Linked DNA regions of Homo sapiens. The protein of the gene in region 2 purifies or fractionates together with the protein of the main gene of each other region. This does not show direct contact. Each region holds a gene or a part of one and is shown on either strand. Other genes may lie near its edges.

Evidence for each region.
Region 1: the proteins of HAGH (region 2) and LACTB2 fractionate together in Homo sapiens (co-fractionation; one large-scale study listed by BioGRID). This does not show direct contact.
Region 3: the proteins of HAGH (region 2) and PYGM purify together in Homo sapiens (affinity purification with mass spectrometry; one large-scale study listed by BioGRID and IntAct). This does not show direct contact.
Region 4: the proteins of HAGH (region 2) and ACSS3 fractionate together in Homo sapiens (co-fractionation; one large-scale study listed by BioGRID). This does not show direct contact.

The regions. Positions count from the first base shown.
Region 1 is NC_000008.11:70,656,531-70,664,515, reverse strand, and holds part of LACTB2 (endoribonuclease LACTB2), read left to right. Parts: intron 1-1,236; exon of another isoform or gene 1,237-2,618; coding exon 2,619-2,782; exon of another isoform or gene 2,783-4,371; intron 4,372-6,633; coding exon 6,634-6,760; intron 6,761-7,985.
Region 2 is NC_000016.10:1,809,826-1,817,810, reverse strand, and holds part of HAGH (hydroxyacylglutathione hydrolase, mitochondrial isoform 1 precursor), read left to right. Parts: intron 1-539; coding exon 540-643; intron 644-816; coding exon 817-918; intron 919-7,977; coding exon 7,978-7,985. UniProt on the Homo sapiens protein: Thiolesterase that catalyzes the hydrolysis of S-D-lactoyl-glutathione to form glutathione and D-lactic acid.
Region 3 is NC_000011.10:64,747,474-64,755,145, forward strand, and holds part of PYGM (glycogen phosphorylase, muscle form), read right to left. Parts: intron 7,364-7,672; coding exon 7,220-7,363; intron 6,873-7,219; coding exon 6,780-6,872; intron 6,553-6,779; coding exon 6,406-6,552; intron 6,210-6,405; coding exon 6,046-6,209; intron 5,715-6,045; coding exon 5,600-5,714; intron 5,032-5,599; coding exon 4,930-5,031; intron 4,599-4,929; coding exon 4,451-4,598; intron 4,183-4,450; coding exon 4,124-4,182; intron 3,994-4,123; coding exon 3,852-3,993; intron 3,111-3,851; coding exon 2,903-3,110; intron 1-2,902. UniProt on the Homo sapiens protein: Allosteric enzyme that catalyzes the rate-limiting step in glycogen catabolism, the phosphorolytic cleavage of glycogen to produce glucose-1-phosphate, and plays a central role in maintaining cellular and organismal glucose homeostasis.
Region 4 is NC_000012.12:81,082,726-81,090,710, forward strand, and holds part of ACSS3 (acyl-CoA synthetase short-chain family member 3, mitochondrial isoform 1 precursor), read left to right. Parts: intron 1-7,985. UniProt on the Homo sapiens protein: Catalyzes the synthesis of acetyl-CoA from short-chain fatty acids. Propionate is the preferred substrate. Can utilize acetate and butyrate with a much lower affinity.

The DNA.
Region 1 (7,985 bases), on a different chromosome or scaffold from region 2:
AAAACTGGAGCCCCAGAAACATGTTCTCCACTACCACAGTCGTATGGTCACTCACACTTTCACCTGCAAACAACCAGCACAGGCATTCTAAAAGATCTGTTTTCTTTGCTACTAGATTTTATCAAATTCATGTATCAACCCTGTTAATTTTGTCATGACTTTTGATCAGTGTGATGTGATCTGGTCATTAAATTACAGAAATTTATATTCATTTTTAGATTAGGAGATATTTCAAAACAGAGTTTCTTGGGAGGACGGGAAGGCAAGGATTAAGAAATAATTTTAAAAGTGGTGGGGCCTTGATGGATTGAAAAAATTTGAGCCTTACCTGAAGCATGGAAGTATTCTTTTTGTGAGGACCAGAAGACCCACAAAAATAGTCCCAGTGACTCTACGTTAGGGGCAGTGAGAATTTGTGGTAAATAACTGCAAATGCATGGAGGCAGCCAAAATCTAGGATGGGTGGGCTAGAGAGTATTATTGGAGGTATCATAGTATTATAGTCTTGTGTATTTTAATTTAGCATAACTAAATATGCACAATGCTAAGTGCAGTACAATGTATTATGGATATAGAAATAAATCCATAAATTCCTTGAACCAAACAGACAAGCTTTCTGCCCTGAAGGGACTCAAATTTGTACGGTGGTGTTGGTTGTGGAAATAGGCAATAAAAAAATAAATATGTAAATACATAATATATTACATGGTAATAATTGCTATGGAAAAAAAGCAAGATAAGATGGCTAGGAATAGCATCAGAACTCACTCTGACCCGAGTCAAACTCATCTCAAATTTGCTCCCTCCAGGGTTTACCTTCTTGATTAATGGCACACCAATCCTCCCACCTAGAAACCTCAGAGTCGCCAACTGTTTCCCTCCTTCCACATCTCGTTGTTTAACAAATATCCTGGTGGTTGGTTGATTGTACCTTCTAAATGTTCTTAAAGCCATCTCTTCCTTACATTTCCACTACCAACAGAACCCTATAATAAATGCCCTCTTGGTCCAGTGTAACCATCTGGTCTCCTGTCTCCGGATAGGACAGTTCAACACTGTGTTTCTGAAGGACATCTACTGTGCTACAGAACATAGGGTGCAGATAGAAGCCAATGGGCTATGAGGCCATTACCCTCCTCCCTTATGAGAGGCCAGTTTGTTTTTGTTGGCTCTGGGTCTCAGGGAGTAGGGTTAGGGAAACAAACCAATAAAAAATAACCATCCAGTTACTCACTGTTTAATTTTAATGCTTTGCAAAATGCTTTCTATGGTATGTTACTTTTATTGTTTATTTCCAGTCATATGCAGTTCCCCTTCTCACCAACAGTTGAATGTAAGCAGGGTTGTTGTGTCCTGCTTACTGCAAGAAACAAATTTGTAGCACATATTAGGTAATCCATAAACAGTTATTGATCAATTAATGAATAACTCAGACTTTTCATCAAGGCTAATCTGTCAGCCAGCCTGAATTATTGAGGTGTTACTGTGAAACAGTATGAGTGAAGAAGTTTGTGAATTGGATCTTGAGCTGGGCATGGTGGCTCAACGCCTGTAATCCCAGCACTTTGGGAGGCTGAGGTGGGAGGATTGCTTGACCCCAGGAGTTAAGAGACCAGCCTGGGCAATATGACGAAACACCATCTCTACAAAAAATACAAAAATGAGCCGGGCATGGTGGCACATACCTGTAGTCCCAGCTACTCAGGAAGTAGATGTGGGAGAATCGCTTGTGCCCAGGAGGTCAAGGCTGCAATGAGCTGAGATCGCAACACTGCACTCCAGCCTGGGTGACAGAGCAAGACCCTGTCTCAAAAAAAAAAGAATTGGATCTTGAGGAACATGTCACCCCCATGTCTTTAGTTCAGCAAAACTTCACAGAGAAAGGCCACCTCATAAAATCGTGAGGAAGGGCAAACAAAATATAAGGAAGATTCAGAACCACAAGCAAAAAATACAGCTAATGGGGTTGTCTAAGTAAAGAAAGAAAATAGCTCAGATGTTTTTCCCATGCTTCACTAAAGCCTTCATTTTCATGTGTCAGGGTGCTAATATAAAACTTCAGTGATAAGTTGTATATCTAGTGCCAAAGACTAGTTTCTTTAGGGGTGCCATTGAATCAAAATCTTTCATATCTATAAAACTTTTGAAATATACTGAGATATGAGATCTCAAAGGCAGATAGATAAAAGCACATATTCTGGCATCAGAATACCTGGGTTTGAAAGCTGTTTCTGCCATTTATCTGTAGAGTAACCTGGGCAAGTTACTTCTAAATATAATGATAAAATATCTACTTTAAACAGTTGTTACGAGGAATGTAATTGGTAAAATATGTAAAGTCCTTGGAATGGTGCCATGTTTATTTTAATTGCTATGTAAATGTTCAAGATGACTGCTATTATTCCTTGTTCAGACTTATATTTAGCTCTAATTTTTCTCAGAAAACTTTCTTAGGGTGAGATTACTGTAGTTAAGCTGAAGTGATGTAGCTGGTTTTTGTGCATGTTAAAAGTAAAATAATTTTTGCAGTTTCTTTAATGTAAATTATCTGTGTGCAAAATAATGCTAATGTCAACGCAGTGTTCCAATTGTGTGATTATCTTCCATTTAATTTTCAGGAGAATCCTCATTGACACTGGAGAACCAGCAATTCCAGAATACATCAGCTGTTTAAAGCAGGCTCTAACTGAATTTAACACAGCAATCCAGGAAATTGTAGTGACTCACTGGCACCGAGATCATTCTGGAGGCATAGGAGATATTTGTAAAAGCATCAATAATGGTAAACAGAAAACATTCATTAAGCTCATTGAGGAAAGCCGTGTTTGGAGAATAATTTATTTCAGTTACAGAGCTAAGTAGTCTATAAACCATTTACTAAATACCTCAGTTTTAAATGGTACTTTTAGAAATTGATTAGACTGTTGAATACTGTGCCTAGTTTTAACAAAGGAGGAACGGAAATCCTGATTTCTGTTTCAAATCCTCAATTTTACTTTAGTGTGTGAGTTACTATTCAGACTTAATCATAACTAACAACTGTTGAGCATTTACTCTGTGCCAGGCACTGCACTAAACAATTTATGTGGATACTGTGAGGTAGGTGCTCTTATTGTTCACATTCTAACAGATTATCTCAGTCCTTCTGTAACTTTAAGGCAGTTACTAAGATATGCTGAAATTCAGGCAATATATCATTGTATTGATAATTCATTGTCCCTGAAACCTATACAGTACTGACATTTTCTATCTCTTTATTTCCTCATCCCACCATCATATACCTAGATTCATTCATTCATTCATTAAATATTCCAGTTACTGTTATATGTCAGACAGTGTTCTTGGCACAAGGGGTATAGCAGTGAACAAAACAGACTCTGTTCTCATGGAGCTTTCATTCCAGTAGGGAAGGTACTGGTAAATAAATAATAGATCAGGCTGGGTGCAGTGGCTCATGCCTGTAATCCCAGCACTTTGGGAGGTCAAGGTGTGTGGATTGCTTGAGCTCAGGAGTTCAAGACCAGCTTGGGCAACATAGCAAGACCCTGTCTCTACAAAAAAAGTACAAAAATTTCCCGGGTATGGTGGCGTGCACCTGCAGTCCCAGCTACTCGGGAGGCTAAGGTGGGCAGATGGCTTGAGCCAGGGAAGCTGAGGCTGCAGTAAGCCAATATTGTGCCACTGCACTCCAGCCTGGGCACCAGAATGAAAAAAAAAGGGAAAAAAATAGATCAGATAATCATGGGTGCTATGCAGGAAAATAAAGGTACAAGAAGAGAAAGGGAAGAGAGCGTAAAGTGGAGAAGGGCAAGGGCTGTTATATCCAGAGTGGACAGAGAGAAGGAGCAAGCTCCTGGCAGGAAGGCCTGCAGGCAAACAGCATTGCAGGAGCAAAGATGGTGGAATGAGAGTGTGGTTGGCACATTCAGGGCACAGTAAGGAGGTCAAGAACATTCATGCTTATTTACATTGAGCTAGTATTTTTAAACATTTGTAAAGATCTGCTTTTTTAGGCCTTGTGACTACAATTGGGACATCTCAGCTACCACACCCAATATCACCAGGCTGCCAGTTATAAAAAACTGGCAACCAAGCTTCCTTACCCTCTTAGCTCCTTTCTTCCAATCTAAGGGGACTGTGTACCATAGGAACTTATAATCTGTCAGTCTGACTTTTCCTTCTCTTGTCTTACCTCTTTTAATTTTGTCTTACCTCTTCTTTTAATCTACCTATTAAATCTTGTGAATTAAAAAACTATTTTATGCCAGGGACGGTGGTGTGTGCTTATAATCCCATCCACTCAGGAGACTGAGGCAGGACGATAGTTTGAGCCCAGCAGTTCAAGACCAGCCTGAGCTACAAAGTGAAACCCTGTTTGCGGGAAAAAAAAAGAAAAAAAAAAAGAAACTACTCTGTGATTTCTTAATTAGCTTTGTCACCTCAGCCAACTCTTCAGATTTTTCAGTTTGAAAAATTAAAATGTTTATGGCCCACTTTTTTCCTTCATAAATCAATTTTATTGAGCTTTAATTTACATACATAAAATGTGCCCATTTTAAGTGAACAGTTTAGTGAGTTTTAACAAACATCAATACCTATGTGACCATTCCAGTCAAGATATGGAACACTTCCTCCATTCCAAAAAGAGGTCCCCTCATGCTGCTTTGCAGTGATTTCCCCCATCCCCAGCCTCCAACAACCACTCAAATAGGATATGTGTTTTCATTTATATTTGCACATAATTTTGAAGACAGATACAAAGTTATAGTATGACATTTATTTTGTAATTTTGATATAATTGTGATTTTTTAATTGTCTACTAAAGGTCTCATAAGCAGAAATGTAATGCCTCCATTTCTTTACTGAAAGATAAAATTATACAGCTTATAAACAAAACAAACAAAAAAACCTCAATATCTCAATCTTGTTATATAATGTCAATTCCCAGAAAAGCATATCATTGTTTTCCTTCGGCCTCTTAGATACAAAATAATAGAGTTTGGGGTTGGAAGGGGAGGTGGTATTTGTTGTTGTTTCTTTTTATTTCAGTGTTTCTGTCTCCTTTATCCTCAAACTAGCAAATTTCTGTGCCTTGTCCATTTTTCTTTGAAATATCTCTTTCTCCCTTCATATTTCCAGTGCTACCGTCTTAACCCTACTATTCATTACCTTCTAGCTGGGAAATTGTAGTCATTCCCCTCCTGGGCTCTCTGATCTCCTTTTGGTCTCCCTACCCACAGCCGCCATATTGATCATCAGTTAACACTATTTCATTATCTTACTAAAGAGTGTGCAGTGATTACACGTGGTAAAGTTTAAATTCTCCTATTTTGTAAAAGGCAATTTGAGACCCTTTCTGATCTGAGCTTATCTTACCTATCCAACTTTATCTCCACTCTTCCTAGCCAGTATTTTGCAGTAGAAAGTTGGTAGCATTATGTTGTCACACATATGTCATGCTCATTCTCATTTTAATGCTTTATTTTTTTGAGACAGAGTCTCGCACTGTCGCTCGGCCTGGAATGCAATGGCGTGATCTTGGCTCACTGCAACCTCCGCCTCCTGGGCTCATTCGATTCTCCTGCCTCAGCCTCCCGAGTATCTGGGACGTTAGGTGCACACCACCACACCTGGCTAATTTTTTTGTATGTTTAGTAGAGATGGGGTTTCACTATGTTGGCCAGACTGGTCTCGAACTCCTGACCTCGTGATCCTCCCACCTTGGCCTCCCAAAGTGCTGGGATTACAGGTGTGAGCCACCACGCCTGGACTTAATGCCTTTTCTAATGCTGTTCCCCTTACCTGCAAGTCCTTCTCTGTACCTTTACCCATCCTGCTCATTCTGTAAGTCACACCTCAAGTTCTATCATATTTATAAATCCTTTCCTAACTCTCTCTGAACTCCTGCTGCCTTTATTAGCCGAATTGTCCATTTAATATTCATTAAATGGTACCAAGTATAGTTCTTTGTTTCATGTTTGTAAGTTTTAGTTTCCCAATCAGGACAGCTTTTAAGAACTTTGATATCACAGTGGTTGTATTCAGTATACCTAGTATACTGGTTAGTTAATTGGCACTCAATTGTTAATTGGTTAATTAATTTATTTTCTTTGTGTCAGTGAAGGGTGGTATAGATTTAGCTTATTTTAAAGGTTTAATATCTTAGCCACTGGTTTGGGGCTTCATTTCAGTACTTGTAGCAAGGACCTCATGCTTTCGTTATTAATTAATGTTTATCCTTTTGTTATTAATTACTGTCATGACACCTTTGCTACATGTTAGGCACCTGGATAGAGAAGAGTTTCCAGGTTCTGTATTAGTGCCTCTTCAACACTTGTCAGGATGCCGAAGCTAGCTACTTTTAAATTTTTTGTATAAACTAGGACTGACTCAAAAAATAGAGGCTTTCATGTAGACCTAGAGGGGCATGAAAGAATGAAGAGCTGTTTGGTTGAAAGATATGAAATATTTACATCCCAGAGATAACCTGCTGTAATTCATCCCATTTTCTGTTGTCTCTTAATGTTAATATTTTATGCAGTCATTCACAAGTGTTAGCTCTATGAAAGTTGATCTCTTAAAAGGCTTAATTATAAAGTGTGAATTAATATATTTTATATGTTTTATGACTAGACACTACCTATTGCATTAAAAAACTCCCACGGAATCCTCAGAGAGAAGAAATTATAGGAAATGGAGAGCAACAATATGTTTATCTGAAAGATGGAGATGTGATTAAGACTGAGGGAGCCACTCTAAGGTAAGTAAATGTCCCTTAGCCAGGGAAGGTGAAGAGTCTGTGTATGTGTGTTATAGAAAAGGATGGAAGGATCCCAGCATTTTGGGAGGCTGAGATGGGAAGATCGTTTGAGCCCAGGAGTTCAAGACCAGCCTGGGCAATACCAAAAAAAAATTTAATTAGCTGAGCATGGTGGCACATGCCTATAATCCTGCTATTCAGGAGGCTGAGATGAGATGATTGCTTGAACCTGGGAAGCAGAGGCTGCAGTGAGTCAAGATTGTACCACTGCATTCCAGCCTGTGCAACCGAGTGAAACCCTGTCTCAAAAAAAAAAAAAAAAAAAAATAGAAGATCTGTGCATATGTGCTGGTATGTGTAAAGAGTACATCAGGAAGGATACAAAAGAAATCCAATAAACATTGCTTACTCTGGGAGGAGAAAATGAGTTGCTTGAGAAATGAGAAAAGAAAGACTTCACTCTTTATTAAATTGTTTATTTGAATCATATGATTACCATTGTTTTAAAAAATAAAATTTACACTTTAAAAAATAAGTGTTGTCTCCCAAGGAGGCTTAGGGATCTACCTATCAATTCAATTCAGGGCTTTCCCATATTCTCACTTCCCAAAGATGACCCATACCTAAATTAAATAAGTTTTAGGCCTGACCGATCATACCTCATGACCTATCTGAGGGTTTCAAAATGGTATTTCAAACTCAGTTATTGTAAAACTGAACTCCTCTCTCCCCCACAATCTGCACCTGTTTTCTGATCTCAGAACATCCACTTTTCTCAGTATGTAAGACTTTACTCATTCTTCTAAGACAGAGGCTTCAGGATTACCTTGCACTGCTCTTCACCTTTACCATCCCCCTCCCCTTGCCCACCACACTAATCAGGTTAGTTTTTACATCAAAAATATTTGTCAGCTGACACAAACAAATGGAAACACATCCCAAGTTCATCTCTGGGTAGGATCAGTATTGTGAAAATGACCATACTGGCAAAAGCAATCTACAAATTCAACACAATCCCCATCAAAATACCACCATCATTCTTCACAGAATTAGAAAAAACAATTCTAAAATTCATATGGAACCAAAAAGAGCCCACATAGCCAAAGCAAGACTAAGCAAAAAGAACAAATCTGGAGGCATCACACTACCTGATTTTAAACTATACTGTAAGGCCATAGTCACCAAAACAGCATGGTACCAATATAAAATAGTCACATACACCAAT
Region 2 (7,985 bases):
ACAGAGGCCTGGGCAGTGATGGGGTGGGGATGCCGTCCTGAGGCCGAGGCCGGAAGGAGCCTGGGTGCGCCTGAGGTGCCCAGCGGTGTGGGCCGCATCTTCCGCCATGGGTGAGAGGTGGTCCCGCTCAGCTCAGCCAGGGTGGTGAGACCTTGGTCACAGGGTGGCGCTGGCTGCTGGGGCCAAGGGAAGATGGGAGCCAGGCATGGGCCTGAGAGGGGCTGCTGCGTGTTTGGGGAGAGGGCTGGATTTGTGAGGGTCTCAGAGCCACAGTTGGTGGGATTGGGGGCAGTGAGGGAGGAGTGACTTGGGTTTCGGGTCTGCTCGGCCAGTTGGGTGGTTGGACTGTCAGCTGAGACTTGGAAGGAGATGTGGGAGCCGGAATGCAGGGGGGCTGAGTCTGGGCAGCCGTGGCCGGAGGGCAGCCAGGGTTCGGGGCCTGGGCCTTGCCGGTGAGTGTCACCCTGCTCCTGGCCCCCTCCTGAGTCCTAGCCACCAGCCTCAAGTGGCCCCCACCTCGTGGCTGTCCTTGTTTCCAGGTGACACCTTGTTTGTGGCTGGCTGCGGGAAGTTCTATGAAGGGACTGCGGATGAGATGTGTAAAGCTCTGCTGGAGGTCTTGGGCCGGCTCCCCCCGGACACAGTAGGCAGCGCCTCCCTGCGGGCCGGGGTGTGGGGGGCCTTAACCAGGGCGGGGCTGCTCTCCCTCCTGGCACCCTCTCACCGGACACCCCCCGGGGGCATCCAGGTCCCGTCCCTGAGGACTTTCACAGGTGGTAACAGCCTTCCGAGCTCACCTGTCACCTCTCTCCTCAGAGAGTCTACTGTGGCCACGAGTACACCATCAACAACCTCAAGTTTGCACGCCACGTGGAGCCCGGCAATGCCGCCATCCGGGAGAAGCTGGCCTGGGCCAAGGTGAGTGGGGCCGTCACTGCGCAGTGCCTTCCTGTGGGCTGCTCAGGGCCGCTGTGCACAGCGGGGTCGCCAGAGTGGGTAGACACTCACACTCTGAGCCCAGAGAGCAGGCCTGGGATTCAGGCCAGTGTGGCCCAGCTCGCCCTGCACGGCAAACCCAGGGGTTCTATGGAGATCCCTCTGCCTCGGAGGGTCTGGAGTAGGCCTCAGACGCTGCGTGTGTAAAAAGCGCCCAGCCTGTTCCCACATTCTGAGCAGTAGGGTCAGGCTGGCAGCACGTGGCTCTGCTGGCTCTCCAGGCCACAGAACGTGGCTCTGTGTCCAAAGGACTCTTATCTCCACGGTGGCCCCACGTGAGCCTCCATGGCGTAGCCCAGGCCAGCTGGGCCAAAGTCTGCCAGGAGCAGGACGGGGTTCTCCAGGGGTGTGTTTCCCCGAATTCACTGGAAACGGTGTCACAAGCACGCACGCCTGGGTGGTCTCAGGCGTGGGCTCCCTCTGCTGAGTGGAGTGAGAGTCGCTGCCTCTGACAGGGTTGTTTTAAATAAATCACCCGGTTTTTTGAGCATCTTTTTCAATTTCTTAGAGTAGAGGTTAACATTATTTTACAGTATTTACTCATGCAAATTCCAACTCTAAATCAGATGAATCATAAATACTCATCTTTTTTTTTTTTTTAATTTTTTTTTGAGACGGAGTCTCCCTCTGTCGCCCAGGCTGGAGTACAGTGGCGTAATCTCGGCTCACTGCAACCAGCACCTCCCGGGTTCAAGAAATTCTCCCTGCTGGCCGGGCGTGGTGGCTCACGCTTGTAATCCCAACTACTCAGGAGGCTGAGGCAGGAGAATCGCTTGAACCCAGGAGGCAGAGGTTGCAGTGAGCCAAGATCGCTCCACTGCGCTCCAGCCTGGTGACAGAGCGAGACTCCGTCTCAAAAAAAAAAAAAAAAAAAAAAAAAAATTCTCCCTGCCTCAGCCTCTTGAGTAGCTGGGATTACAGGCGCCAGCCAACACGCCCAGCTAATTTTTCTACTTTTAGTAGAGATAGGGTTTTGCCATGTTGGCCAGGCTCGTCTTGAACTCCTGACTTCAGGTAATCCGCCTGCCTTGGCCTCCCAAAGTGCTGAGATTACAGGCGTGAGCCACGTCACCTGGCCCGTGTGTCTGTCTTGAGTGGACAGATTGCAGTTTGAGGAATGTTGATGATGTTTGCACTTGTGTAATCCCCTCCACAGTCCAGATGTGGAACTTACCACTACCCCAAAGGCTCCTGTGTCCCTCCCATGTGGCGTCCCCGCCAGCTGTTGCTCTGCTGTGACCTCAGGTCACTTTCTAGTTTCCCATGAACAGAATCTCATTGCTCCGTCATCTCTGTGGCATTCTCGGCCCCGCTGATGTTGGTGAGGGTCAGCCACGCTCTTTGCTTCTGAGTAGCCCATTGTGTGGAAATGCTACAATTTGTTTATGCATTTGTCTGTTTCCAGTTTTTTGCTATTTGAATAAAGCTGCTATGGACATTTGTGTACAAGTCTTTTGTGAACATGTTTTTATTGCTCTTGGATACTACCTAAGAGTGGAATTGCTGTGTTGTGTGGTTAAAGGTGTGAACCGTTTTCCAAAAATGGTTGTACTGTTCTACAGTCCCCCACCAATGCTTGAGTTCCGGGGCCTCCATGCTGTGCCAGCACTGCTTGGTGTTGTCGGTCTCTCCAATTTTTGCCATTCTAACTTGCCTGTGGTGGCGTCTCACTGCCTTTAAAATGTGGATTTCCCCATGTGACCATCTTTTCATGTGTGTCGGCCTTTGGATGCCTTCTCATGAAGTTTATGTTCAATCTTTTGTCCATTTTAAATATTGGGTTTGGCCTGTTGGGCTGCTCTTGTAAGAGTTCCTTATATCATCTGGAAACAAGTCTTTGTGAGATATATATATATATGTGTGTGTGTGTGTGTGTGTGTGTGTATATACATATATATATTTATTTGTTTGTTTTTTGAGACAAAGTCTTGCTCTGTCGCCCAGGCTGGAGTGCAGTGGTGTGATCTCATCTCACTGCAAGCTCTGCCTCCCGGGTTCAAGCCATTCTCCTGCCTCAGCCTCCCAAGTAGCTGGGACTACAGGTGCCCGTCACCACGCCCAGCTAATTTTTTGTATTTTTAGTAGAGATGGGTTTCACCGTGTTATCCAGGAAGGTCTCGATCTCCTGACCTCGTGATCCACCCGCCTCGGCCTCCCAAAGTGCTGGGATTACAGGCGTGACCCACCACGCCCAGCTGAGATATATATTTAAAAGATGTTTTTCTCTCCCAGCTCATGGCTTGCCTTTTCATTTTCTTAACATTGTCTTTTGGAAAATAGTTTATAGTTTTGGTGAAGTTCCATTTACTTATTTTTTGTTTGTTTCTTTTTTTTTTTTTTGAGACGGAGTTTCACTCTTGTTGCCCAGGCTGGAGTGCAGCGGCGCGATCTCAGCTCACCGCAACATCCACCTCCTGGGTTTAAGCGATTCTCCTGCCTCAGCCTCCCGAGTAGCTGGGATTACAGGCATGCACCACCACACCCGGTTAATTTTGTATTTTTAGTAGAGATGGGGTTTCTCCATGTTGATCAGGCTGGACTCGAACTCCTGACCTCAGGTGATCTGCCCACCTTGGGCTCCAAAAGTGCTGGGATTACAGATGTGAGCCACTGCGCCCGGCCTACTCAATTTTTCTTTTATGTTTCTTGTGCCCTTTCTAAGATATCTTTGCATACCCTTAGCTCACAAAGACTTTCTCCTGTGTTTCTTCCTAGAAGTTTTAAAGTCTTAGCTTTTATATTTACAAACAATTTACAGTGTTCCCTTTCAAGATGGTGTTTGTGTGTGGTGCGAGGTGAGGGTAGAGGTTCACCCTCTCGCAGTGTGATCCCGAGGTGTTCAGGGCTGTCTGTCGAAGGACTGTCCTTTCCTCCCTGGATTGCCTTGGCACCTTTCTGAAAAGAATGGGCCCTCTATGCCCGAGTCTGCTTCTGGTCTCTGCTCTGTTTCGTTGGTCTCTATGACTTGCCACGGTGTCCGAGGACAGCACCTTGATGACTGTAACTCTGTGCTGAGTCTTGGCACTGGTATGTGTGAATCCTCCAGTGTTCTTTTTCAAAATGGTTTTAGTTGTTTTAAGCCTTTTACATTTCCGTTTTCAGAATCATCTCGTGAACTTCTATCAGAAAAGCTAGCCTGGCTGCTGATTGGGACTGTTGTGATAACTGATGTGGCGAGAATTGCGATCTTAACATTGAGTGTTTCTGTGAGCTTTCCATCTATGAATGTCTTTAGCTTTTCTCAGCAGTGTTTTGAAATTTGCGTGTTCAAGGTCTTGCACGTGTTACTAAATGGATCCCTAAGCACTTCTGGTCATGATTATTTGTTGATACTAGTTATAAATACAGTGGATGCGTATTAACTTCCTGGGTGTCTTAGTCTGTGTGGTGTTGCTATAAAGGAATACTTGAGGCCGGGTGACTTATAAAAGGAGGTTTATGTGGCTCATGGTTATGCAGGCTATATAAGCAGCATGGCCTGGGCGTCTGCACCTGGTGAGGCCTCAGGCTGCTTCTGCTCATGGCAGAAGGCGAAAGGAGCTGGTGGGTGTGAAGCATGTGGCCAGAGGAAGGAGAGAGTGGGGGAGGCAAAAGTTTCTTTTAAACAACCAGATCCTGTGGGAACTAACAGCAAAAACTCGCACTTGGAGCAGGGCACCAAGCCGTTCACAAAGGATTCCCCCCATGATCCAAACACCTCCATTAATTGGGGATCAGATTTGAGCATGCGTTTGGAGGGATGGACATCCCAGCCGCAGCCCCGTGTGAACACCCAGGAGAAGGGAGTGGCCGGGCTGGACGGGAGGTGTGTTTGACTTTTAAAGAAACTGCCAAACTCCCCTTCCCCGGTGCTTGTGGTGTTTGCTTTCCTGCTGGGAAGGCGTGGGCACACCAGCTGGTCCGTGTCTTTCGGCACACCACACGGTGGAGCCAGCCCACGCGGTGGAGCCAGCCGTTTGAAAGGAGGTGCTGGAGCCCAGTCCCTGGTGAGAGGCCGCCTCCTGCAGGGCGCCTCCCATTCTGCGGCCTCTGGTTTTCTTAGCAGTATCTTTTGAGCCAACATTTTTAATTTTAATGAAGTCCAATAGATTCTTTTATGCTTCATTCTTTTTTGTCTCCCATCTAAGAAATCTTTGTTTATCCCAAGGTCAAAAAATTTTCTCCTGTATTTTATTTTTGGAATTTGTATAGTTTTAAAACTTAGTATGAACTCCCACCCCCCAAATGTCTGCTGGATCTGTAATGATATTCCTGCTTTCATTCCTGATTTTGACAATTTGTGTGTTTTTTTTTTGTTTTTTTTTTTTTTTGAGACAGCGTTTCGCTCTTGCCGCCCAGGCTGGAGTGCAATGGCGCGATCTCGGCTCACCGCAACCCCTGCCTCCCGGGTTCAAGCGATTCTCATGCCTCAGCCTCCCAAGTAGCTGGGACTACAGGCATGTGCCACCATGCCTGGGTAATTTTTATATTTTTAGTAGAGATGGGGTTTTACCATGTTGGCCAGGCTGATCTCAAACTCCTGACTTCGTGATCTGCCCGCCTCAGCCTCCCAAAGTGCTGGGATTACAGGCGTGAGCCACTGTGCCTGGCCTGTCATTCTTTTTTTTTTTTTTTTTGGTTGGGGAGAGACAGCGTCTTGCTCTGCTGCCCAGGCTGGAGTGCAGTGGCACAATCTCGGCTCACTGCAACCTCCGCCTCCTGGGTTCAGGCGATTCTGCTGCCTCAGTCTCCCGTACCTGGGACTACAGGCCTGTGCCATCATGCTTGGTTAATTTTTGTATTTTTGGTAGAGAGGGGGTTTACACGATGTTGCCTAGGCTGGTCTTGAACTTCTGGGCTCAAGTGATCCTCCTGCCTTGGCCTCCCAAAGTGCTGGGATTACAGGCATGTGCCAACCACACCCGGCCTCATTCTTTTTGATAGGTGTAAAATATACTATTGCGTGGGTGTCACCCATAAATCATTTTACCAATCCCCATAGGAGGGACGTTGAGAGTTTTCAACTCCTTTTGCACCCTGGAGTCCAGAACCCACACGAGGTGGAGCTCTTCTGAGCTGTGCTGCAAGGACTGACCTTATTTTTTTATTTTTATTTTTTTGAGGCAGAGTCTCACTCTGTCACCCAAGCTGGAGTGCAGTGGTGCGATCTCGGCTCACTACTGCAGCCTCCGCCTCCCGGGTTCAAGCGATTCTCCTGCCTCAGCCTCCCAAGTAGCTGGAATTACAGACATGTGCCACCACGTCTGGCTAATTTTTGTATTTTTAGTAGAGACGGGGTTTCACCATGTTGGCCAGGCCGGTCTCAAACTCCTGACCTCAGGTGATCCACCTGCCTCAGCCTCCCCCAGTGCTGGGATTACAGGTGTGAGCAACCGCGCCCGGCCTGTTGTTCTTTCTTTGGGAGACAGTGTCTTGCTCTGCTGCCCAGGCTGGAGTGCAGTGGCATGGTCTTGGCTCGCTGCAGCCTCCACCTCCTGGGTTCAAGTGATTCTCCTGCCTCAGCTTCTCCAGTAGCTGGGATTACAGGCACCCGCCACCACACCCGGCTGATTTTTTCTATTTTAGTAGAGATGGGGTTTCACCGTGTTGCCCAGGCTGGTCTCGAACTCCTGAGTTCAGGCAATCCACCCACCTCGGCCTCCCAAAGTGTTAGGATTACAGGCGTGAGCCACTGCGCTCGGCTGACTGACCTTATTTTTGTCTTTAAATGCTTCGTACTTTGTAGGAAAAATAGCTAGAACATTAAAACTCGTTTTAATAGGTAACCTAAAAGCTTATGACAATTTGTACTTCCTCTGTTTTAAAGGTCTCCTTAGAAGTGTTAACTTTGCTTCCCTCGTAGGAGGCAGAGGGAGATTTCTTAGGATTGAGAATGTTGGTGGGAACACAGGGAATATTTTAAAACATTCTCAGATTCTTTTCGCCAGAAGGGAAGAACAGATTAGTGAGAAACCATCTTGGCATCTACCAGACCCCCGCTTGGTGCAGCTCTACCAGCTGAAGAGTCACTCACCGACACCACTGCCCATAGCGGGTGGGGAACCTCGGGGGTGAGGCGCGGTGGTCTTGAGCCTGTGCGTGGGCACCAGCAGCTTCTGTCAGAGCTCTGCCCTGAGGCCCTCCTGGTGCGGCTGCGGTAGAAGGGCCGGGGCTGTGTGGAGACCCCGCTGTTGCCGCCCTGTGTTTTCCTGCTAACTGTTGGCCCCGTGGCTGGGTTTGCATTCTCCTCCCCCCGCCCCCACCCCATCTGCCCTGGTCAGTGCTGGTCGGAAGGGAGACCATCTCCATCTCGAGAGGAGGTGACCAGCTGCCTGCCTGCAGGGGCTTGGGTGGCCTCCCCTGCTGCTGGTCCCTGTGCCCCTCCTCCCCGTGCTTGCTGTGAGGCTGCAGCTGTGGCGGTTTCTTTTCTGTGTCTCCTGCATTGCTGTTACCTCCATAATGTGAAATGTAAACCATGTGAATGAAAAGGAAGCTCCGTCCCTGTCGTCCTCTCCAGGCCGGTGCGGGAAGGCGGATGTGTGGCTCATCCCGGACGCTGGCTTCTCTTCCCTCTTCCACACGCGCACACCCGCCGGGCTCTGCTCACCTTGCCTTCTCAGCCTTGTCAGTCGGGCAGTGTCCTAAGGTTACCAGGAGGTGTTCTGAAGCATTTTTTGAGACGTGATGTCGCTGTCACCCAGGCTGGAGGGCAGTAGCACAGTCTTGGCTCACTGTAGCCTCGACCTGTGCTCAAGCGATCCTCCCACCTCAGCCCCCTGAGTAGCTGGGACCACAGGTGCCTGCCACCATGCCTGGCTAGTTTTTTGTATTTTTAGTAGACACAGGGTCTCGCCATGTTGTCCAGGCTGGTCTCAAACTCCAGGGCTCAAGTGATCCATCTGCCTTAGCCTCCCAAAGTGCTGGTATCACAGACGTGAGCCTCCGTGCCTGGTCTGCCATCCTGTGAAGTTCCCGTGATAAAGTGGTGCGTTTCTCTTGCAGGAGAAGTA
Region 3 (7,672 bases), on a different chromosome or scaffold from region 2:
CCCAGGGCTGCCACATCGCCCCTGCAGGGCCTCCCTGCAACTCCCCTTCTCTGCTCAGCTTTTCATCCCTCCTTTGTGAATGAAGAAACTGAGGCCCGGAGGATACAGAAAGCTAAGTGTTAGAGCCAAGGCCCCCAAACAAGCTCTTTTCTCCCACACGCCACTGCTGTCTCTTAACCAGTTTGTTTGCTCCAAAATGGCTTTTCTCCTCCAGTAGCCCAAGTCCATATCCGGCCTTGCCCTGGGGCAGCAAGAGCAGCTAACAGGTACAACCCTTCAACTGGGCCAGGCATGGTGGCTCACGCCTGTAATCCCAGCACTTTGGGAGGCCGAGGTGGGCGGATCATCTGAGGAGGTCAGGAGTTCAAGACCAACCTGGCCAACATGGTGAAACCCAGTCTCTACAAAAATACAAAAAGTAGCCGGGCATGGTGTCGTGTGCCTGTAATCCCAGCTCCTCGGGAGGCTGAGGTGGAAGAATCACTTGAACCCGGGAGGCGGAGGTTGCAGTGAACCGAGATCATGCCATTGCACTCCAGCCTGGGCAACAGAGCAAGACTCCATCTCAAAAAAAAAAAAAAAGATAACCCTTCAGCTGACCCTCAGCGCCCCCACCACGGCTCAAAGCGCTCCACAGGCCAGTCTCAAAACCTAACCGTTCCAACCAGAAACCAGCGCTCCCCACAAAATCTCTAATCCCTCGTGCGACTCTCTAGTCCCTTGTGCGACTCTCAGGCAACTCTCCCTGCATTATGGTGTCAGCCCCCACAGTGGTCCCCCACCTGCCCCCTCCAGCACTGTCTCCATCCTGCAGCCAGAGGGTTCTTCCAGGCCTCGTTCTGAGCATGCGGGACCATGCTCACAACATCTCACAGCTCCCTCCTGCCCATGGGACAGCCAGCTTTCTAGTGAAGCCTCACAGGAGACACTTCTTTCAGTGTTTAATGCCAACTCTGGGAAGCTGTTGTGGGAGTGTAAACTGGGAGAAACTTTCTGGAAAGCAGTTTGGCAATCTGTATCAAGAGCCTTAAGAACTCATACTTTTTAACTCAGAAATATCACCCTTCTGATAATTATCTTAAGGAAATCATCAGATGTGGACGTAGACATTAAAAGGTTGCTCATCACAGTAATATTTAACAAACCGGAAATTAACCTTAGTGTCCAGCCACATGGAATTGATTAAATAAGTTGTGACATGCTCATAGGATGGAATGTTATACAAACATTTAAAATATTTTTGAAGACTAATAACATGGAAAATCTCTCTCCAATGCTAAGATATCAGGATTCAAGCAGGGCGCGGTGGCTCACGCCTGTAAACCCAGCACTTTGGGAGGCCGAGGCGGGTGGATTACTTGAGGTCAGGAGTTCAAGACCAGCCTGGCCAACATGATGAAACCCCATCTCTACAAAAATACAAAAATTACCTGGGCGTGATGGTGGGTGCCTGTAATCCCAGCTACTCGGGAGGCTGAGGTGAGAGAATCACTTGAACCTGGGAGGCGGAGGTTGCAGTGAGCCAAAATCATGCCATTGCACTCCAGCCTAGGTGACAGAGTGACTCTGTCTCAAAAACATAAAAATAAATAGGCCAGGCGCAGTGGCTCACCCCTGTAAGCCCAGCACTTGGGAGGCCGAGGAGGGTGGATCACCTGAGGTCAGGAGATAGAGACCATCCTGGCCAAAATGATGAAACCCCGTCTCTACTAAAAATACAAAAATTAGCTGGGCGTGGTGGTGGGTATCTGTAATCCCAGCTACTCAGGAGGCTGAGGCAGGAGAATCGCTTGTACCCGGGCGGTGGAGGTTGCGGTGAGCCAAGATCGTGCCATTGCACTGCGGCCTGGGTGACAGAGCAAGACTCCATCTCAAAACAAAACAAAAGGCCGGGCGCAGTGGCTCACGCCTGTAATCCCAGCACTTTGGGAGGCCGAGGCAGGCAGATCACGAGGTCAGCAGATCGAGACCATCCTGGCTAACATGGTGAAACCCCGTCTCTACTAAAAATGCAAAAAATTAGCCAGGCGTGGCAGCAGGTGCCTGTAGTCCCAGCTACTCGGGAGGTAGAGGCAGGAGAATGGTGTGAACCCAGGAGGCGGAGCTTGCAGTGAGCCAAGATCGCGCCACTGCACTCCAGCCTGGGTGACAGAGCGAGACTCCGTCTCAAAAAAAAAAATACATTAAAATAAAATAAAATAAAATTTTTTAATGTAATGCCAGGATAATGTCTTCTCTGAAGAACTGTTTCTGACCATAGGCCCCTTGTAACTACTGTGCCCATATTTCCCTTTTGCCCATGGCTTTCAGGGAGCAAGGATTTTTTTTTTTTTTTTTGAGGCAGAGTCTCACTCTGTTACCCAGGCTGGAGCGCAGTGGCGCGATCTCGGCTCACTGCAAGCTCCGCCTCCTGGATTCACACCATTCTCCTGCCTCAGCCTCCCGATCAGCTGGGACTACAGGCGCCTGCCAACACGCCCGGCTAATTTTTTGTATTTTTAGTAGAGATGGGGTTTCACCGTGTTAGCCAGGATGGTCTGGATCTCTTGACCTTGTGATCCGCCCGCCTTGGCCTCCCAAAGTGCTGGGATTACAGGTGTGAGCCACCGCACCCGGCGTAGAGCAAGGATTTTTTTACTTCCATTTCCCAAACAATATTATCTCTTAGGGTTGATATAATATTCTCTTCCTTTTCCTTCAGTTCTATATTACTTCTTTCTTTTCCAATTTCATTAACCTTATTTGCTGTAAGCGCCCTCTAAAGTTTCCCAGAATCCTGCTGGCCATGACCAAGACCTTGCTGGGCCTGGACCAGTCTTTCCAGACGTGCCGCTTGCTCCCAGCACCACTCTCCAGCAGCCACACCTGGGTGTCTTTTGCCCGTGAACCCTGACCCCCATACCCTCTTTGGTCAAGCTTATCCACATCCTCCACCCGCATGCCAAAGATGAAGAAGTTTTCCTCTCCCGCCTCTTCTGCCATCTCCACATTGGCCCCGTCCATGGTGCCAATGGTCAGAGCCCCGTTGAGCATGAACTTCATGTTGCCGGTGCCTGAGGCTTCAGTGCCCGCAGTGGAGATCTGCTCAGAGAGGTCTGCAGCTGGGATCACTGTGGGGTGGCAGCAGGGGGACAAGTCAACTCAGGGAAGACCCTCACACCAGCTGGGGACTCTCAGATTAGGCTGGCCCCAGGCATAGCTGGACTCAGAGTCGCCCCACCCCAAACTCCCAGTCTTCACCAGCCAAGCCTCCCTCTCACACCGCACCCCCACTGCCCTCTACCTCTTGTTGATTCTTGACCATCTAGGTCCAACCTGGATTTCCCCACCTCTGTTGCAGATTTGAAGGTAATTTCACCCTGTACTGCCTGAAATTCCACCATTAGAGGGCATCCTCATGGGGTTTTTGCTTTGTTTTGTTTCCTCTTGTTTTTTGAGACGGAGTTTTGCTTTTGTTGCCCAGGCTGAAGTGCAATGGCGTGATCTCGGCTCACTGCAACCTCCGCCTCCCAGGTTCAAGTGATTCTCCTGCTTCAGCCTCCCAAGTAGCTGGGATTATAGGCACCTGCCATCACGCCCAGCTAATTTTTGTATTTTTAGTAGAGACGGGGTTTCACCATGTTGGCCAGGCTGGTCTCGAACTCCTGACCTCAGGTGATCCACCCACCTTGGCCTCCCAAAGTGCTGGGATTACAGGCATGGGCCACTGCGCCTGGCCTCCTCATGGTTTAAGCATTGCCCTCTCCAGATTCTTCTTTCAAGTACAAGTATCCCAGGAAGAGACGACTGATACCTCTTCCTGAGACTGAACTAGTCAGAGCCTCCCTAGGGTCCCTGTTGGCAGCACCCACCTTTCTCGGCCAGTGAGACTCGGTAGTTCTCCAGGAAGATGACACGGAGGCGGTCACCCACTGCCGGGTCATGGTTGACCACATCCCCGATGGCTGTGACGAGTCTGATGATCATCTTGGCCATGTGGTACCCAGGTGCAGCCTGAGGGGACAAAGTCTGGGGTCAGCTCTACTGCCTGGCCCCCCACCCCCTATCCTGCAACTCAGCTGGGCTGACCTCAACCTGGATATATCAAAGGACGGGAGCCCAGGGCTGGAGCCTGGCTTCTCACCTTCCCTCCAATCATCACAGTCCGAGGCACAAAAAACTTATTGGGCTCCCTCTTGATGCCTGTGGAGAAACGAGAGGGATCCAGTGGGCCTACCTTTCCCTCTGGGTAGTAGCTCCTGACAGAGGCTGGGCTGGGACACCGTAGGCCTGACTCGAACAATCACTTGCTATGCTCTCTTAGCCTCAGTTTGCCCATCTGTGAAATGGGGATAATTCCATGTCCCAAGAGTAGTCCCAAGTCCAAAGGAGATGTTGGTTGGGCAATATGTACTATGCCGCAGGAACACGGGGGAGCACTGAGAGACAGGGTAGAGTGGCTGCCACTCACGGTTGTACAGGGTGATGACATGGAGGCAGTTGAGGAGCTGTCGTTTATATTCGTGAATCCGCTTCACCTGGATGTCGAAGAGTGAGTTGGGGTTGATGTGGACTTTGTATTCCCTCTCTAGGTAGGCAGCAAACTTCAACTTGTTTTCCTGGAGGCAGAGACGGGGAAGGGCTCACCAACAGGCCACAGCCTCAGGAAATCCTACAGTCCACACTCCAGTCAGCCCCAGGAGGATGGCTACCAGGAGGCTCACTGGCTACTTCTGTCCACTCCTGTACCAGGGCAGACATTGCTAATCAATGTCAGCACTGTTCATGTGAGGTCAGATGATGCCTTCCCACCACAGACTCCAGGCAACTTCCACCAACGGCCTGGGCTGGCAGGAGAGATGAGCTCTATTTGCCACGCCTGACCCAGACATCTGGCCCCTCCAGCGCTCTCCACACAGCACAGCTGTCCCACATTGCATCTCTCCCCACCTGCTTCACTTTGGCCACATCCCGAATGAAAGCTTCATCATCCACAAAGGAGAGCAGTTTGCGCAGCTGGTCCAGGTCAGAGATGAAGTCCTCCCCGATGCGCTATGGGAAGACGGCTCTCAGCCAAGCCCATCCCCATGTCCTCCCTCCTCCCAACACAGAAGGGGCCATTTCCAGGTCAGCCAAGCCCCCTTCACCCAGCAGGCTGCTCTGGGGGCCCTCCCAGCCCCTCCTCCTCCAGCCGCCCAGATGGGGCACGGGGCATCCATGCACCTTCCTCCCCTCCCGTCCTTGAGCTCTGATGGCTGACCCCACCTGACCCCAGCAGGCCTTCCTGGCTTCCTGGCCTTTTCCTAACGCCAGCATGACCTTGCGCCTTCCCTACCAGATATCTGCCCCCTTCCAGGCTCACTTCAGATGTGACCCATGGATGACTCCCTCTGCTGTGTTCACCTCCACAGCCAGGGCCTCCATTAGCACACAGAGCACCCTCATGCAATTAAGATGGTGTCCCTCCTCCAGGTGGATGCGAGGCTTGGGGAACACAGTGCAGGAGGGATTTCAGCCTTCAGCTGGGAGCCCTGATGCAGTGAACCACCTACACGACCATACCCAGCTGATCCCTGCAGGGACCCATGTTGACTCTACTGGCCCTACGGTGGCCTCTCACCTCAGCAATGACCTCTGCCAGCCCGGGGTTACACAGAACCAGCCAGCGCCGAGGGGTGATGCCGTTGGTCTTATTCTGGAACTTATGAGGCTCCAGCTCATAGAAGTCTTTGAAGCTGCAGGATGAGGTTGGACGAGGGTCACCACTCACCCCTGTACAATGAAGGCCTCTGCCCTGGGGCCCCTACCCTGGTGTCTTGCTGAAAGGGGCCTGGGGCAGGGAATGCAGACCTGGGGAAGGTTGGGGGTGCTGTGTGTAAGAGGAGGTCATCTCAGGACAGGGCGGCACTGGAAGGGGCTGCTGTGCTTGTAAGAATGACGCCACCTGTGAAAGGCGCCAGGGCCCAGAGACCAGAGAGTGGTCGGTGAAGGGCGGGGCTTCTGTGTGACAGAGGCGTGGAGTGGGTGGGGCCTAGAGAGGGGCGGGATCTGGAAAGCGGGGCTCACATGGTCTTCTTGAGGATCTCGGAGTGGATGCGCGCCACGCCGTTGACGGCGTGCGACCCCGCGATGCACAGGTGTGCCATGTTGATGCGCTTCACTGCGCCCTCCTCCACCAGCGACATGCGCCGCAGCCGGTCTACGTCCCCTGGGAATGCGGCCGCCACCCGCTGTGCCCAGAGAGCCCAGAGCTAGAACCAGACCCAGGAACCCCCATCCCCAGTCCCCAGCCCCACACCCCCAGAGCTCTGCCCAGTGCCCCCACTGCCCCAGAGTCTCAGGGCCCTGGCTGGACGCCCCGACTCCCAGGCCCAGACTGGGTGTCCCCCCTCACCCCCACACCATCCCCCAAGCCTCCGGACTCACGTTGAGGAAGCGCTGGTTGATCTCGTAGATGATCTGGAGGTGCCGCGGCAGCAGCGTCTCCAAGAGGTGCACCGGCCAGCGCTCCAGGGCCTCGGGCAGCACCGTGTGGTTGGTGTAGGCACAGGTCCTCACTGTCACATCCCACGCCTGGCACACGGGGTGGGCAGTCAGGATGCTGACCTCAGCCCAGTGGGTCTCCTCACACACTACGCATCCCAGTGGGCCCCCCCACTGCAGTGCCAGGTTCCAGGACGGTCCCTCTGGCCTCAGGCTCTGATCCCTTCACTCCATTCATATCCTCCCACGCTCCCAAACTGGGAAGGGAACCCCGAGGCAGAGAGCATCAGATGGGGCAGAGGGGCCCTGAAGCCCACCTTGTCCCAGTCCATCCGTTCCAGGTCCACCAGGATCCTCATCAGCTCGGGGATGGCCAGGGAGGGGTGGGTGTCATTGAGCTGGATGGCCACCTGGGGTAGGGGGAGGGGTCAGTCTGGGCTCCAAACCACATTCCATGCTATGGTCACTGCCCTATGCCATTTGGAGGCCCCCAGAGAGCCCAGCACGGTTCTGTGACTGGGCTGTGGGCAGAGGCAGGCCGGTGCTCATGGGGGTGGGAGGAATGGGGGGAGTGGGGCGGGAGGAGGAGGGAAGCCCAGGTTCTGAGCCTGTGGATTGTGAATCCTGAACAACTGACCCTCCCACACTCCCAGTCTCCACTCCCTTATCTATTACATGGGGCAGGCAGGCCGAGGCTGGAGGGAGAGGCCTAGCACACACTGTCCGGTCACAGAGTCGCCCTCCACACGCATGGTACCTTATCTGGGAAGGCATCGAAGTTCGTGCGCACGGGATCACGGCAGCCGAACTTGGAAGACTTGAAGCGACGGATGATGTCCTGGAGGGTGGCAGCCACCACGAAATACTCCTGCTTCAGCCGCAGCTCCTTCCCTTCGAAGAACTGGGGACAGCATGAGGCAGCGTGAGTCAGGGCGGTGGGGGCATGGCCTAAAGCTGCGGTGGGTGTGGCCAGGAGGGACTCCCACCCATACCGGGACCCCTGAGCCCTGAGCCGGCCCCCTCTCTGGGACCCAGGGGCCTTTCCTCCACCAAGAACTAGTGGCGAGAGACAGTGTCAGGAAGAGGGGTACAAGAACCGAGTGTGTTGTGGGTGTCGCCAGGGAACAGCCCCTCCAAAGTGCCCTTCGCTAACCCAGTTTCCTCAGGACTCAGGTGTCCTTGCACTCAAAAGACTTGAGGTGGGGGCACA
Region 4 (7,985 bases), on a different chromosome or scaffold from region 2:
ATTTCCTATTCCTTCTTCTTCACTGGGTCAATACAGGCTTGAGTTCAACCGTAGCTTTGCCGCTTACTCTGAGAAAGCTTCAATACCTTTATTTGCAAAATTAGAATCATGACGGTATCTATTTCTAAGGATTAAATTGGGTGAGAGAAGCTTGTAAAGTGCCTAGGACTGTCCCTGACACATACAACTAGATATGATTATCTTTGGAATATGAAAGAAATACTCCCGTGAGCTAATGTGGTCCAATAAGTTTTGAGGGGAAGCGGTAGCATTTAGAGTGAATCTTAAAGTAGGACTTAGGAGGAAAGTCATTTATGTTCAGGGAACAAGATGACAAAAACATAGAGGTAAGAAAAGCCAAGTGTCCTTAGAGGATAGTTATAGTAGACCAGCTGGCTTTTAGTGGCTTGTCTGAGTTGCTGGGACTTACTTTCAGAAAATAGTTTCAGCCTGCTTTTAAAAGGCTTGGAGTAGCAAGCTAAGGCATTTGCATTTACTTCTTAGGTCACAGCAGGGCTGAAAGCCTGCAGGTAGGCTTTGTTTGACCTACAAGTTTTGTTTGTTTAATTTGTTGGCATTTAAATATTGGAATATAAAAATCTAAATTTCCTGTAAAAAATTCAGCTTTTGGTCTTTTTTTTTTTTCTTTTGAGACGGAGTCTCACTCTGTCACCCAGCCTGGAGTGCAATGGCATGATCTCTGCTCACTGCAACCTCCATCTCCCCGCTTCAACCATTTCTCCTGCCTCAGCCTCCCAAGTAACTGGGATTACAGATGTGCACCACCACACCCAACTGATTTTTGTACTTTTTTTTAGTAGATTTGGGGTTTCACCATGTTGGCCAGGCTAGTCTCGAACTCCTGACCTCGTGATCCGCTCACCTCGGCCTCCCAAAGTGCTGGGATTACAGGCATGAGCCACCGTGCCTGGCCCTTGGTCTCCTCTTTAAAGAAGAAAAAATGGGCAGGGCGCAGCAGCTCACGCATGTAATCTCAGCACTTTGGGAGGCTGAGGCAGGCAGATGACGACGTCAGGAGATCCAGACCATCCTGGCCAACATGGTGAAACCCCATATCTACTAAAAATACAAAAATTAGCTGGATGTGGTGGCACACACCGGTAATCCTAGCTACTTGGGAGACTGAGGCAGGAGAATCGCTTGATCTAGGGAGTCAGAGCCAAGATTGTGCCACTGCACTCCAGCCTGGTGACAGAGTGAGACTCTGTCTCAAAAAAACAAACAAGAACAACAACAAAAACCCGGAATGTCTGTCGGCGATGGGTCAGTATTCCTGCACAGCAACACTCGGCTGGAACTGAGCAGCTGCTGATCCTTTAAATGGTGCATGTGCTTGTTTGTTATTCACTGTCCTCACCCCTATTGCATTATACTTTGCCTGTCCCAGCCATTAACTTTTCCATTGTGATCATTTTTGTTTGCAGTGCCTCGTAAGGCAGTAATGATCCATGGAAACATTTTGTTAAGAAGGTGATAGGATGAAAGTATTATCAGAAGCCAAGTTTGACTTCAGATTTCAATATTTCTTGGTAGGTTGGGAAATGAGGGATATTGGGAAACATGGAGTAATGAGAACATAAAATAATGTGACTAATGAACTAGGGTAATAGCAGGAGGTGTAGAAAGAGAGGAACTTCAGGAATAAAAATTAAATTACACATAGTGACTTTTTGGCAGCGGGATGCAGGGAAGTAAAGACATGGTAACTGTAAGAATCTGACTTAAATGTCCAGATGAGGAATTGATGGGGCAATTAAAGTTACGAGGCTGAAAACTGGGAGAGAACTTGATGTAGAATTATAGATTTTAGTATAAATCTTAAAGAGGTGAGAGGTAGAAGCTTATGAAAGTTGAAGTGAAAGAGAGAAAGAAAGGGAAGAGAAGAGGAAAATAGTAAGGACTGAACTTTGGGAAAAAGTGGGAGAAAAAAAAACTATGGAAATGGATGAGACATTCAAAGAAAGAGGAAAAGAAAGAGCAAGATATTCTAGTGTCATGCATTGTAAAGGAGAGAAAAGATAAAAATAGTGGTCAAGGGCTCTAGAGATGCTTTGAGGCTATTGAAAATCAAAAAAATATCTGCTGTGACTCAGAGATTCTTGATGACTTTCTATAATATGATATCAATGGTGAGATAAGGGCCAAAGCCAGAATAGCACATTACAGAGTGAACTGGTATAGGCAAAAACATTCCATGAGGATATTCGACAGTGACAGGAAGATGAAACAGGATAATATATGGCAGTATGGTGGTATCTGGGTCAAGTAAAATAAGTTTCTTCCTCATTCCTTATTTCCTCTCCTCCCTTTAAGAAGAAATCTATGTTTAAATGCAGAAGTGAAGAAATTATGAAATAGGAATGAAGGGAATTTTGCTTGTTTTGAAGCCTACTGCTCAACAGGACTCCTTGTTTTTGCAAGTTGAACTTTGTGTGGTTTCTTATGTTAATTTTTTGCTTTTGCTGCTACAAGTTACTGAAAGAAACAGGTTGCAAAAGTCTCAGAATTGGTATAAAGAGTACTCAGTAGATCTGTTTGTTCTTTTTAAATACTACAGTGATTCTAGTGAGCTAAATATCTCAATATTTGTTTGTGAGTCTGACAGGGAGGATAAGGAAGCAGCTGAAAAGGGAAAAGATAATGAATATTTGTTGAGTCCTTTCTCTGAACTATCAACTATACAGTAGAGTCACATATTTCCATTTATTCCTTCCCCAGATGCTGCAAAGTTAGTATTATCATGCCTTTTCTACATATGAGGGAATTGAATCTTAAGGCCACACAGCTAGTTAGCAGAGGCTAGACCTGGGTTAGTATTAATAGCTCCAGTGGCTAAGCCCAGAATCTTTTCCTCCAAATATCAAGGGAACTGTTCCGAAGGCAGGTTGCCAAATCTTGGCCAACCTGAAAAAGATTTTTGGCTACTAAATTGAAGGAGACCAAAGAGATATGAATTAAATGCAAAAGGTAGTTTCTGAATATTTTCACCATAATTGATATTTTTGAGGACAAGTAAGAAGCCAGAACAGGATTTCAGGATTGGATGGTGGTAATGTGTCAATATTAGTTTCCTGAAGTTGATGGTTATAGTATCGTTCTCTAGAAGAATGTCCTTATTTATAACAATTACATATTAAATTATTCTAGGGTTCTTGGGCATCATGTCAGTAAATGTTTCAAAGGGAAAAAAAAAGTACTTTATCTTGTAATCGCAAATTTTCTGTGAGTTTGAGATTGCTTCAAAGGAAAATAAATACAAATATAATGGGGATTTTATGTATCCAGAAAGCAATTTAATCCCCCTATTGAACTTTGGCTCTTTGGCAAACAAATGCTCAGCTACATTAAACTGTTTGGGAAATTCAGTATTTGTCAGATATTTTTAAAATTACATTTAATTCTGGTTTGAAGGTGAGAGTGTTATATAAAGAGGAAGAATTTTTCTCCTTTTGACAAACTCTAAATTAAATGAATTTATTCATAGCGTTGTACACAGTAAAGGTATATTTAAAATATAAAATCATCATTATTTTATAGATTTAAAAATATTTTAAGAAGGTATCTGCTTGGCATGAAAAATTGCCTGTTAGAAATAAGGCCTCTCAAAATAACCTCATCAAGAAAGACCAGTTTTAAAAGATGGGCCTTATTTTATATTCTGAAGGTCAGCAGCTTGGTACTGTGCCGTATCTAATTTTCTCAGCCTGTCATGCTGCTGAACCTTCAGGACAGAACAGAGTGAACTACAGGAATGCTGCAATTACATAAGCAAGGATGGATTGCCTGGCAAATGGCGCAATCAATGAACAATGGAAATTCAATCGGCTGTGACTGATCAACTACTAGGTGTTGGGGGAAAATCCACACTCTTATCACCGCCTGAAAGGTGGCTTACTTTTCTTTTGTCATGCCACATATAGTATTAGTTGAAAGGACAAAAAAAATCCAGTGGTTGAAGTTGTTTGCTTGTTCTTCTTCTTCTTTTTATTTTTTTTTATTCTACTTTCATAAGCAACAAGCTGCAACTCCATGAGGGAGATCATTGCTTTCCACTGTGGTGTGACATTTGTAAGAAAAATGTGTAGGAGGCTAATGAATCTTTGCAATTATATATATGAATGTAATAACCTCTCTAAATTACAGTTTCAAGTATATGTGAATGTGGAGCTCAAATCCTTTATCTAAACTACGTGGATAGGGAACTTGTTATATTAAAGGTATTAATTATATTTGTTTTTGTCAGTGTTTTAGTTGAATGAGGTAAGGAACAGTGCATAGAAAGGATAGGTATTATTTTTATAATATCTTAGGAAAATTAAAATTTGTGAATTTTGAGTTTGAAGGAGTCCAATTGGAAATACGAGGATAGTAAAAAACAGAAGGTCTTTCAAATACTAAATTAGAGAGGGACAGAGTTTAATTATATGGCTTTAATAATTTAAAACATTAATTGCCTTAAGAGGGAGGAAAGCAATTAAAGTCTGTAGGTCTTTGACTTATGACCTGACTCTGGACAATAGGAATACCTTCTCTTAAGGTGTTTATGGTAGAATAACAACACTTGCCAAGTATAATCTTTCAAGGTGTCATTGCTAAGTGGATGCAGCAGTTAAGTAAAATAAATTTGGTAAGATGAAGAAGAAGGAGCAGGAGAAGAAGAAGAGCAGGAGGAGGAGGAAGGAGGAAAGAGGAAGAGAAGAAGAAGAAAAGAAGGAGGAAGAAAAAGAATGCTTAATTTCTACTGTAGATCTGGCCAGTATAGATATCTGTAGAAAAATTTAGTAAGACTAAAAAAAAAATTAGTCACTCCGTATTATTGTCCATTTGCTAAATAACTTTAATCTAATGAGTGCATGGGAGCTTAGAAAAGTCCACTTTTGCGCTAATCTCACTTTGCATTCTCTCCATACATTTTTTCTTATTTTCATAGAATTCCATTGATTTTCAATTGAGAGGCAAGTATTTTTCTATAATAAACCACAAATACCTAGACTGTGCCTTCCTCTAACTCTCCCTCCCAACTCTCCCTCCTTAAGTACAGATGAAATTTGCCACTCTTATCAATGGGATTTGTTGGATACCCTAATTTTGGTGGTTAGGAGGAAAAAGTATTGAGAATTAGTTAGTGGAGAAAACAAACTGATTTCTGGTTCAAAATCTTGGCTCTACTCTTTGAACAGTATCTTGGTCCAAATAATTATAATACGGAAGAATTATAAAATGCATACTGTGATGGGTATTACTATTTTTTGTGTTGTTTCTTTTCTCGTCTGTTCTCTTCTGCTAATATGTAGGAAGATTGGTCTTCCCCACATATACGTGATTATGCGATTAGCTTTGGCCACTGCAATAAGAGGAGCAAGGCTTTTCACTTAGTTAATTGCCAGAGCTTCAATTCTTAGTTCTTTCTCATCTACCATGGCCATTTGGAAGTACATGTAGAATAGAAGCAGTTTGGATTGCTAAGCAAAAACGTATAGATGACAATGTTTTGGGGAGTCTACCTGAACCCACAATGGAGTGGCGTGAGTGAGAAATAAACATTTATTTTTGCAAGTTACTGAGATTTTGCAATCGTTACCGTATGGCATAATCCAGCCTGTCCTTACTGATTGAGGGGTAAATAATAACTTTATGACTGTTGGGATAATTTAGTCTGCTAAAGTACATAAACATTGTCAGGTATATCATAAAATAGCTAACCTTTTTATTATCTGTTATCATAAAAACAGCTGTTATGAAAACAGCTAACAACTAAGCTTTTTATTGTCTCCATAGTATGCGCTAGATACAATACTAAGTGTTTTAATTTGTTTAATATTTATAACAACTCTGTGAGGCAGGGCCAATTTTTATTCTTGTTTAAAGGGTTTGGAAATACAGTTTCTTAAGAAACTTGCCTAAACTTATAAAACTAGTAAATAGCAGAGCTAAGATTTCAACCCAGGCTGGCTGAATTTAGCATCTGTGCTCCTAAATATATTCTATTGCTTGTTGAAAATAGTCTCAATTAATTTTAGATTTTTAAAAATTTTTTAACTCTTCTCCTCTGAAACCGTTTAAAGTTTTTACTTTTCTTTTTAAATAGTGATATAAGAAGAGTTTTTAAAGTTTGGGTCTACATCTCAAAAACATTCTAGATATGGAATAAAAAATAGCTGTTCTTTGAAAAAATAAACTTTTAATTTTTTATTGTGTATGACAGTCCTAAAGGTGGGAGGAAGGGAGCTTTAAATGAGTTGACAGCTTCTTTAGAAATGTTTCCTGGACAATAGAAAGCAATATTAATCTCTTCCTTAAAACTACTCTGTTGATTTTCTGGCTTAAGGAAAATCTATAATGACCACATTATTCATTGCTTATAGTATGCTTTAATGTTATTTTTATAAGAACATGATAAATAGCCTAATTAATTTGTCTAATTATGAACACTTGGAAATTTACTCCTCCAACCTCTCAATAAAAAAATAGGATTTCTTTATATGTTAAGTTGTTGGTTTTATTTACTTTTAAATACGTTGATGTGTACTATTTCTTTTTATTTTTCTTTCATTCTTTTTTATCTTGATCCTAATTCCCTTCTGCATTTTCAAGCAGAAGATATGCAGGTGGAGAAACCTTGATTAATGGCATATGTTAAGTGCAGAGATATATTTCTTGGAAATTGCATTGCAACTGGCTCCCTTAGTTCTAATAATATCCCATTTTTTAGGAATCCAGTGCAAGGTCAATGAGTTGTGTCTCTCACCTGTGTTATTCCATAGATATTGCCAAACTTTGGAAAACAAATGATCTAAAAATGTTAAATGCTTCCTTTGAGTGTTTATGGGATGAGTCAAAAATATATGTGCAGAGTCTGTAATAGAATGAGAAGGAAACTAACATGTGATTATTCTCTAGCTTGTTACTGAGTCATTCCTTTCTGTAACCTGATGTATTATCGTCAATAATGATAATGGTGATAGTAATAATAACAAAACAATGACAATGGCAAAGACTATAGTACTGCTGTTTTGGTACTAATTATGAAGAATTTGATTTGTGTTGGGCCCTATGCTAATCACTATATGTATATTATCTCTTTGAATCTTCCCAACAACTCTTATAATGCATTTTTATAATACTGTAAACAAATGCACAGAAAGATAAGTGGCTTGTCCGAAGTTATACAGTGGTGGACTTAGTTTTTTCAACCCAGTTGGGTCACACTGTAGAGCCTAATTTCAGTTATAAGTTGTAATTATGCTCTCTACCTTCTGTTTTACATAGCAGAACCTAGAGAGTGAAAAAGCATGAGAGCAATGTAGCATTCTTAAAAATGTTAATCGGGATTTAACTTCCCTTTGCTTTATTTGTTCTCTGTGTTTCTGTGTGTTTTCCACTCTCCTCTTATCTTAGAGAAATGTAAGTCCTCACTGTTTTCCCAGAGCCAACTTGCACATGTCTTTTTGATTTCGTCGCCTTTCAATGTCTCTAGGGATTTTATCTTAAAACCTTTAGTGGTTCTTTCCTAAAAAGCATTTCAATCTTGTTTTCTTTTAAGCAAATTTGGCAAAAATGCTCAATGCTCATCTACATTTTGTCACTTCACATCTATTATGTGAGCTCATGCTCTATTGATACTTCTACCAATAATTTGACACATCACCACTCAGTAATAGGAGAGTAGGGTTCAGGTCTAAATTACATTTGTGATCTTCGCAGCAGAATGCACAAAGCCTTCTGTATATATCAGTTGAACTGACATTAAAAACTTCACCATATACAGATTTACCTTCTAATCCATCTCCTAAATCTGATTTTTTATATAAATTGCAGGTAGATACTACCTGAATCATCTATCCAATCAGAACCTCAAATAATCCACAAATCCTCTATCAAGGAACCAAAGAGTTTGAAGTTTTGTCATCTAAGCTTTGGGTCTAAGCTTTATTTTGAGGCAGTTGGCTTCCTTTGCCTCTCCT